2 linked regions of the Homo sapiens genome follow. The protein of the gene in region 2 interacts with the protein of the main gene of each other region in a pairwise test. Each region holds a gene or a part of one and is shown on either strand. Other genes may lie near its edges. The genes, in order: HOPX and EPC1.

Evidence for each region.
Region 1: the proteins of EPC1 (region 2) and HOPX interact in a two-hybrid assay, tested with the Homo sapiens proteins (one study listed by BioGRID).

Annotation. Positions count from the first base shown.
Region 1 is NC_000004.12:56,671,087-56,674,914, reverse strand, and holds part of HOPX (homeodomain-only protein), read left to right. Parts: intron 1-3,828. UniProt on the Homo sapiens protein: Atypical homeodomain protein which does not bind DNA and is required to modulate cardiac growth and development. Acts via its interaction with SRF, thereby modulating the expression of SRF-dependent cardiac-specific genes and cardiac development.
Region 2 is NC_000010.11:32,340,618-32,344,445, forward strand, and holds part of EPC1 (enhancer of polycomb homolog 1), read right to left. Parts: intron 1-3,828. UniProt on the Homo sapiens protein: Component of the NuA4 histone acetyltransferase (HAT) complex, a multiprotein complex involved in transcriptional activation of select genes principally by acetylation of nucleosomal histones H4 and H2A.

The sequences.
Region 1 (3,828 bases), on a different chromosome or scaffold from region 2:
TTAGCCAGACATAGTGGCACACACTTGTAGTTTTAGCTACTTGGGAGACTGAGGCGGGAAGGTTGCTTGAGCCCAGAAGTTCGAGGCTGCAGTGAGCTATGATCACGATGCCACTGTACTCCAGTCTGGGCAACATAGCAAGACCCCATCTCTAAAACAAACAAATAAATAAAAAGTAGAGAAGTTAATTTTACCCATCTCCACATAATTTCTTGTAATTTGCTTCTGGTAGTTTTGATAAAATGTGACCAAACATGAAAACAGTGCCAGACCTTTCACAAATGATCTACTCTGTCCTTGTATGTTCAGAAAGAAATGAAACAAAAACCTGAGGCAGACATTGATCAGTTCTAATCTCTTAGTGTATACTGGGCAGGAAACCAGTGGCAGTCATTTTGGCTGTTAGGTCTAGTCATTCCATCTAGGATCATGAGGAAAATTTCCTAGGATTCTTAAGGTCATGACAGATCTGCTTAGATAGTCTAGTCGTTGTTGATGTATTTTCACTTCTTCCTTGTGGCTTCTCCCTAAGGAAATGTACATAAACAATCTTCCTTAGCCCTGATATCTCCATCAACCCTTTCCAGATTTTCAGTTTGCTGGTGCCAGGAGTGAAATCTGTTTTACAAAAAACTTTAATTCAGTGGCTAATATTTAATTTAATAACTAATGTTGGAAGTATCTATCACTTTATTGTATATGCCTTACCCTCTTCCTGGGACATAGACTAGCATCTTTGGAGATGGCTGGAACTGGGATTTATGAAGCAGGAGGGAAGAAAGCAGGAGGCCACCCCTACTTTCATTAATACACTGTACCTGGCTCAGGGTTCCACAGCTGAAAAGGGAGGAGAGTCCTTGGAACTAACTCAAGAGTTAAACAATAGTTGACTAAACAATAGTAAAATTAGGGCTGGGTGCAGTGGCTCATGCCTGTAATCCCAGCACTTTGGGAGGATGAGGTGGCCGGATCACCTGAGGTCAGGAGTTCAAGACCAGCCTGGCCAACATGGTGAAACCCCGTCTCTACTAAAAATCCAAAAATTAGATGGGCATGTTGGTGCATGCCTGTAATCCCAGCTACTCAGGAGGCTGAGGCAGGAAAATCGCTTGAACCCGGGAGGCGAAGGCTGCAGGGAGCCAAGATCACAGCACTGCACTCCAGTCTGGGTGACAGAGCGAGACTACACACACACACTCAAATCAGATCTATAAGGAACACAGAAAGGCCTGATGTTATTTAGCTTGGACAAGAGAAGGCTATAAAGCCACTGAATGATGGTGTTGAAAAGCATGGAAGGATGTCGTGGAGGTCAATAACCAGCTCTTCATCTTGGCTTTTGAGGAAAAAATCCAAGACCAAGGATTGGTGGGGCTGCAGTATAAAGGACATTAAGTAAGCCATGAAGTACTCCCCTCATTATACAAAAAATATAGTGGAAAGAATTAATTACACAGACAAGCTCTGAAAGATGGGGCAGTCCACCAATCTTTTATTTTTTAAAGCCCTTTTTTTTGTTTGTCTTTAGGCGTATGATGAGTTAACATAGTCCTTAATTCATGGCATACACAAGACCCCCTCTTAGGTTTTATATCTCATTCCATTTCTCCTGCTCTCCCACTCTCCCTCTTTTCTCTCTTTCTTTTCACTGAACACTATAATTTTAAGATGTATCTATGTTGTTGATGATATTTCTAATGCATTATTATCAATAGTCTGTTAATTATATGTATCTTTTACTTATTGACTCCTGCAGTAATGGACATCTTTCTTGCCTCCAATTCTCTGAAATGATGCTGTAATGAATATTCTCATATGTTTGTTCTACCACCCTTTAGATCTGGTTCATGGGAAACAGAAAGGGAAAGGAGTGGGCTAGAGGTTTTATGTTTTATTCACACAGCATGGAATATTGAACTGTCCATGATAAATGGAGGCATAATGTAACCAGTTAGTATTTCAAACATTTACAAGCTTCTCCATGTTCCCTTGTACTTTAATAAGAGATTGAGTGACAAATAATTTTCTAGAACTAAAAGAGCACAATCTTCAGTGATCTCCCCTTCTCAATATAATTTTCTTTTCTTTTTTTTATTAAAAAAATTTTTTTTAGCCAGTCAGGCTGGGTGCGGTGGCTCACACCTGTAATCCCAGCACTTTGGGAGGCTGAGGCAGGCAGACAACCCGAGCTCAGGAGTTCGAGACCAGCCTGGCCAACATGGCAAAAACTTGTCTCTACTAAAAATACAAAAATAGACAGGTGAGACTCCATCTCAAGTAATAATAATAATAATTTTTTAGCCAATCAAATTTAGCAGTGGGTGGTTGCATTCAATGTCATCTTCTTTTCTTTCTTTCTTTTCTTTTTTTTTTTTTAAGACAAAGTTTTGCTCTGTCGCCCAGGCTGGAGTACAGTGGCATCATCTCGGCTCACTGCAACCTCCACTTCTCGGGTTCAAGCGATTCTTGTCCCTCAGCATCCAGAGCAGCTGGGATTACAGGCGTGTGCCACCATGCCTGGCTAATTTTTGTATTTTTAGTAGAGGCGGGGTTTCTCCATGTTGCCTAGGCTGGTCTGGAACTCCTGGCTTCAAGTGATCCTCCCACCTCAGCCTCCCAAAGTGCTGGGATTACAGGCATGAACCACTGTACCCAGCCAAATGTCATTTTCTTAAACTTGGCTTTATAAATTCTAGAAGCATTTTATTTCTCGATATTGGTTACTGATTACCCAGAAAAAGCAAATGAAATGTTCTAAGAAATCTTATTAGTCATGAGGTTGAGTGAAGTTTCTAAAATGTTTTGCCATTTTAATGATTGCAAAACCTGATGTCATTTTGTTGCCCAATTATATCCTGAGTCACTGGGAAAGCTAGATTAGAACCTTAATAATGGTACCTTGTATTTATGTAGTGTTGATAATTTATAGTGCCATTCATAAACATAATCCATCTCATGGAATCCTACAACATTGTGTGACAGGTGGGGCAGGTTAATAGCTTCAATAGTAGATGATGAAATGGACGTCTAAAGCAATTAAGACAGTTGTCCAAAGTTACCTGGAGACTATGTGATAGAGCTGGAAGGAGACTCCGGGTCTTCTGAAGCTTCACTCAATCTCTTTCTGCAGTATCACGGCTGATGCTCAGAAAAGTGATCTATTGTAGGTTCAAAGCTGTCCCCTGAGCTGGACATTCTGGTGTATCTGTCCTTTTCAATTATTTCGTGATGTTAATGAGCTGGCTAAAGCTGCACACCCTCTGTTTGTCCTATTAGCTGAACACCTGCTCATAAAAACCACTCAACTGGGGAAAAAAATCAGGTCCATATCACTGAGTAGCATGGCAACAAGCAGCATGGGTGGTTGGACTTTGGCATAATTTGGAGCTCTGCAAGGTACCAGCTGTGGGTCATTTTATCCATGACCTAATTATAGTCATAAAATAAGAATGGTAGTTGGACCATAAAAATAATAATCTATTAATATATATTTATGCAAAGAGATAATTCCATTCTGTCAAAGACTCTTTTCTGGACTTTTCAAAATACACAACTAACCTGAGGAAGTTCTGTCTGCTTGCAGTAGACAGTCTAATGGCCTAAGGAAAGGCATGTGATTGGGCAGCCTGAAAATCTACCCATGGTGCATGTGCAACACCACACAGGTCTCTGATGTATCTTACTATGTAATTTGAGCTCAGGCAAAAATACCGTAGAACCCAGCATATATTTTCAAAAAAACCAATCATGATGTCACATCCCCAGAATTACAAATGAACAGCTCTTTTCAGAGTCAGGCATTAGGAATGAGAACATTTTTAGAAAGAA
Region 2 (3,828 bases):
CCAAGAGTTTGAGAACAGCCCAGGCAACATGGTGAATATTTAAAAATAAAAATAGAAAAAATTAGGCGTGGTGGTGTGTACCTGTAGTCTCAGCTACTTGTAAGGCTGAGGTGAGAGGACTGCTTGAGCTAGGGAGGTTGAGGCTGCAGCTGCAGTGAGCTATGATCGTGTCACTGCTCTCCAGCCTGGGTGACAGAGCAAGACTTTGACTCAAAAAAAAACCCGCAATTCTAGCAAGTTGTTTAAAACATTTGAATCCCTTGTCTTCTCATTGATTTCTCAGAATTTGGTTTATTCTTACCAAAAAGTTATTGTTATCAATGCAAGTCACACTTCAGTGTTCCAAAAGTCTACTTTAAAAGTAAATACATACTCTAGTTGTCTCTGAAAGTATGTCATACTTTCATATCACTTTTGCCCTTAGACACGCTCAATTCTTTTTATTCCTGAATTACAATATAAAATTCTCATTTCCTTGTGCATCTCTTCTTCTAAGAAGTACAATCACAAATGATACAATTCCATGGTATTATTGCTCCCTTAAAATGCTATCTTCTGCTTTTAACTAACTGCTGTTAACAATTAAGCATCCTTAACTTTTCAAGAAAATTGAGTAATAAATGTAATCAGAAATCACATCTTTACATACATAAAAAGGACTCTTGCCATTACTAAGTGCTTTAAAACATGGACACATGTCTGTGTGTGTGTGTCTGTGTGTGTGTATAGATTCTATGTTTCTACCATTACTACCAGTACATACCATGACACAGTAGAATGCAAAATATAAAACTAAAACCCAGCCATTTTTAACAGGATTGGTTGGTATATTTAATCCTGCCCACACATTCATGAACCTTTATGCAGAATTTTTTCTCTCGTTTACAAAATTTAAGCTACACTGTAGGCAGTACTTTTAATTAAGTCCTATTAACAGAAAAAAATGTAATTCAGTACAAATGCCATTGCTGATCATGAAAAGCACCCACAAAATACCATTAGATACATAAACACATTCAAATGGTATACTGAAACAAAAGTTAATACTAACATTTCAGGTGCATAGGCATGTAAAGTGTTCAAAAGGTCCCTTCTGTATTCAAGAATCCTTAGTCTCTTCCTGGACTGCCTGTCCTTTTTCAATTATCCTCCTTTGACTAAGTCTATTTAGTAACTGCCAAACTGAGATAAAACCAAAATGACTCAGTTTGAAATTTATGGAACAGCTGATCTTAACCCCTGGGCTTTCTGCCCCAGCCCATTACCGATACTTTGAGAAATTGATGACAAGTGTGAACCTTCTCCCTAGAAAAATATATTCTAACATTTTATAGGCATATGGTGGGAATCCATCACTTCCAGAATTATTTCCACATAATCCTCAGAACCCTAGCTTAGCAACTTTATGCAAAAATACCTTTGGACAGTATAGAAAGCTGAAACATTTTATTAATTCTCTTTGATTTTATCTGAAGTAATTGTAATCTAATGCAAAAATCCCCATACTCTCAATTCTTTTCTAATTCAAACTATCTGTAATTAGTTTGTTAAACTTTGCTTCTACTATAATTGAGATTTCATGTATTTCTCTTCACTTCCAAGAGAGTGGATAGAATGGAGAAATCTAGATTGATCTTTACAGCTCCAGATAAAGGGACTAAAAATATTGGTTTAAAATATTAAAGGTTAAAGAAAGAGACTGTTGGTTTCTTTCAAAGTGATTTAAATTTAAACTAGGTTTTTATTACTAAGTTTTGGAAATGGGGTAACCATTTTTTTCTCATATCAAGGATATGTACATATTTCCCATTTCCCCATAATTAAAAACAAACAACTCCCATCCACTTCTTATAAATAGTTCTTAACTTGGGCTTAGTAACAATGTATATTGTGCCAGTAATACAGAAAAGGTGGGAGTATAAAGACCATCCTGTCCTGTTAGAATCCTATAGAACCAAGGTGCTGGATTATGGTGGTTAGATCCTACTTGTAACAGTTTCAAAGGTGACTGTAGGGTAGTATCAATATGAAAACATCATTAACATCTTAATTACACCAAATCTCCTCCCCAAACCAGTCTAGGTAACAGGAGAGGAAAGGTTAAGTTGCCACCCCCTCATAAATGGAACAACGCACCCTAGACAACCCAATGAAAAGTTAAACTACTGTGGAACAGTAGCTCCATTTTGCTAAACATCATTTTAAAATCGACTTTTTAAAAGTGATGTTTCCATAAAGGAGAATTGTTAACAACATAAAGCTCCAATTTTAATCAAGAGTCAATTTTAATAAAAAGATTTGATAGTATTAATCCATTTGGTAAGTTTAACCTTTCAATAGAATGCGAAGCCGTAGCACAAGATTTAAGATTATAAAGATAATTAAATTATAATCTTAAAGTTAACATTGTAAAATATTCATAATAGGACATATGCCCCACACCAACCAAGCACTTGTTTAAACTTTTATCTTTTTTTAAACCCCAAAGGGACTCAATTATCTCAGAGCTGAAAGTCTATTATTTCGCTGTGATTTAAGTCACATCTGTACTTCATTAAATACATTGTTTTCATCATCCGTTACTTTATTTTTAATTAAATTATTTTTTCTGAAACGAGTTTCGCTCTTCTTGCACAGGCTGTGAGTGCAGTGGGGGGATCTCAGCTCTCTGCAACTTCCACCTCCCGGGTTCAAGCGATTCTCCTGCCTCAGCCTCCCGAATAGCTGGGATTACAGGCAGCTGCCACCACGGCTGGCTAATTTTTGTATTTTTAGTAGAGACAGGGTTTCACCATGTTGGCCAGGCTGGTCTCGAACTCCTGACCTCAGGTGATCCACCCGCCTCGGCCTCCCAAAGTGCTGGGATTACAGGCGTGAGCCACCGCATCCTGCCAATCTGTTACTTTCAGACTTAGCAAATTTCGATGCATTACATTCTGCGAATTCACATTTAATCTCTAACATCTTTGACCCAGTCAAATCCTTCAATTTACCACAATCTGAAGTTACTTTTTCAGTACTACTACAATTAAAAAAATAGATAAGTTCAGTAACATTTTCTGCCTCCAAATTATTTTGGGGGGGGGGTGTAAGGGCTTCTACTTAAAGTTGTTTCTTAAAAAGTCTGCCTCGTTAGGCCCGTGTGTGCAGCTCATAGTATTAAAACTGGTTAAATGGGAATACACGAATAATACTTATTTTCCCAATGTTAAAAGACCTGGATTTCTGTCAAGTATATCCAGAAACAACGTAACAATTACTAGGTGTATTTCACATGACAATTCTGCAGATTATTTTGATCAATAAAATGCTTTAATCAGGTGGTGTATAAAAAAACTGCCCTCACCTTTCAGGACCAACATAGGACTACATACTTTTTTTTCTAAGACAGTCAGTTCAGGTTCTAGGTTACAGTGACCTAATAAGATAACAAATAACTAATGTGTCAGTTAAAGGCAGAAGTTTGCTTTAACCCTTCCTCTTTATTAGAAGTACAAAATACTTCCGCACATCAAAAAGTTTGTTTTTCTATGGAGAATCCAGAATTCAATTACCTTTATGTTTAATATACCTTTTCAACACTGCATAACACACTACTTTCAATATTATGATTTACACACCCTACCACTAACAGCATGAACCACAGGACTGTAAAGCAGCTTGTTTACCAGGTACTTTTTACATTCTTCCATTAGGTTCAGTGTCTATTCTTGAGGTCTATGCTTCTCTCCTCATACATAGCTTTGGTTGGATGTGAAGTGAAAAATTCTAAACAGATATTTGGAAAAGGCAATCTGAAGAAAAAAAAAAATCCCTGTGTTTCAAAAT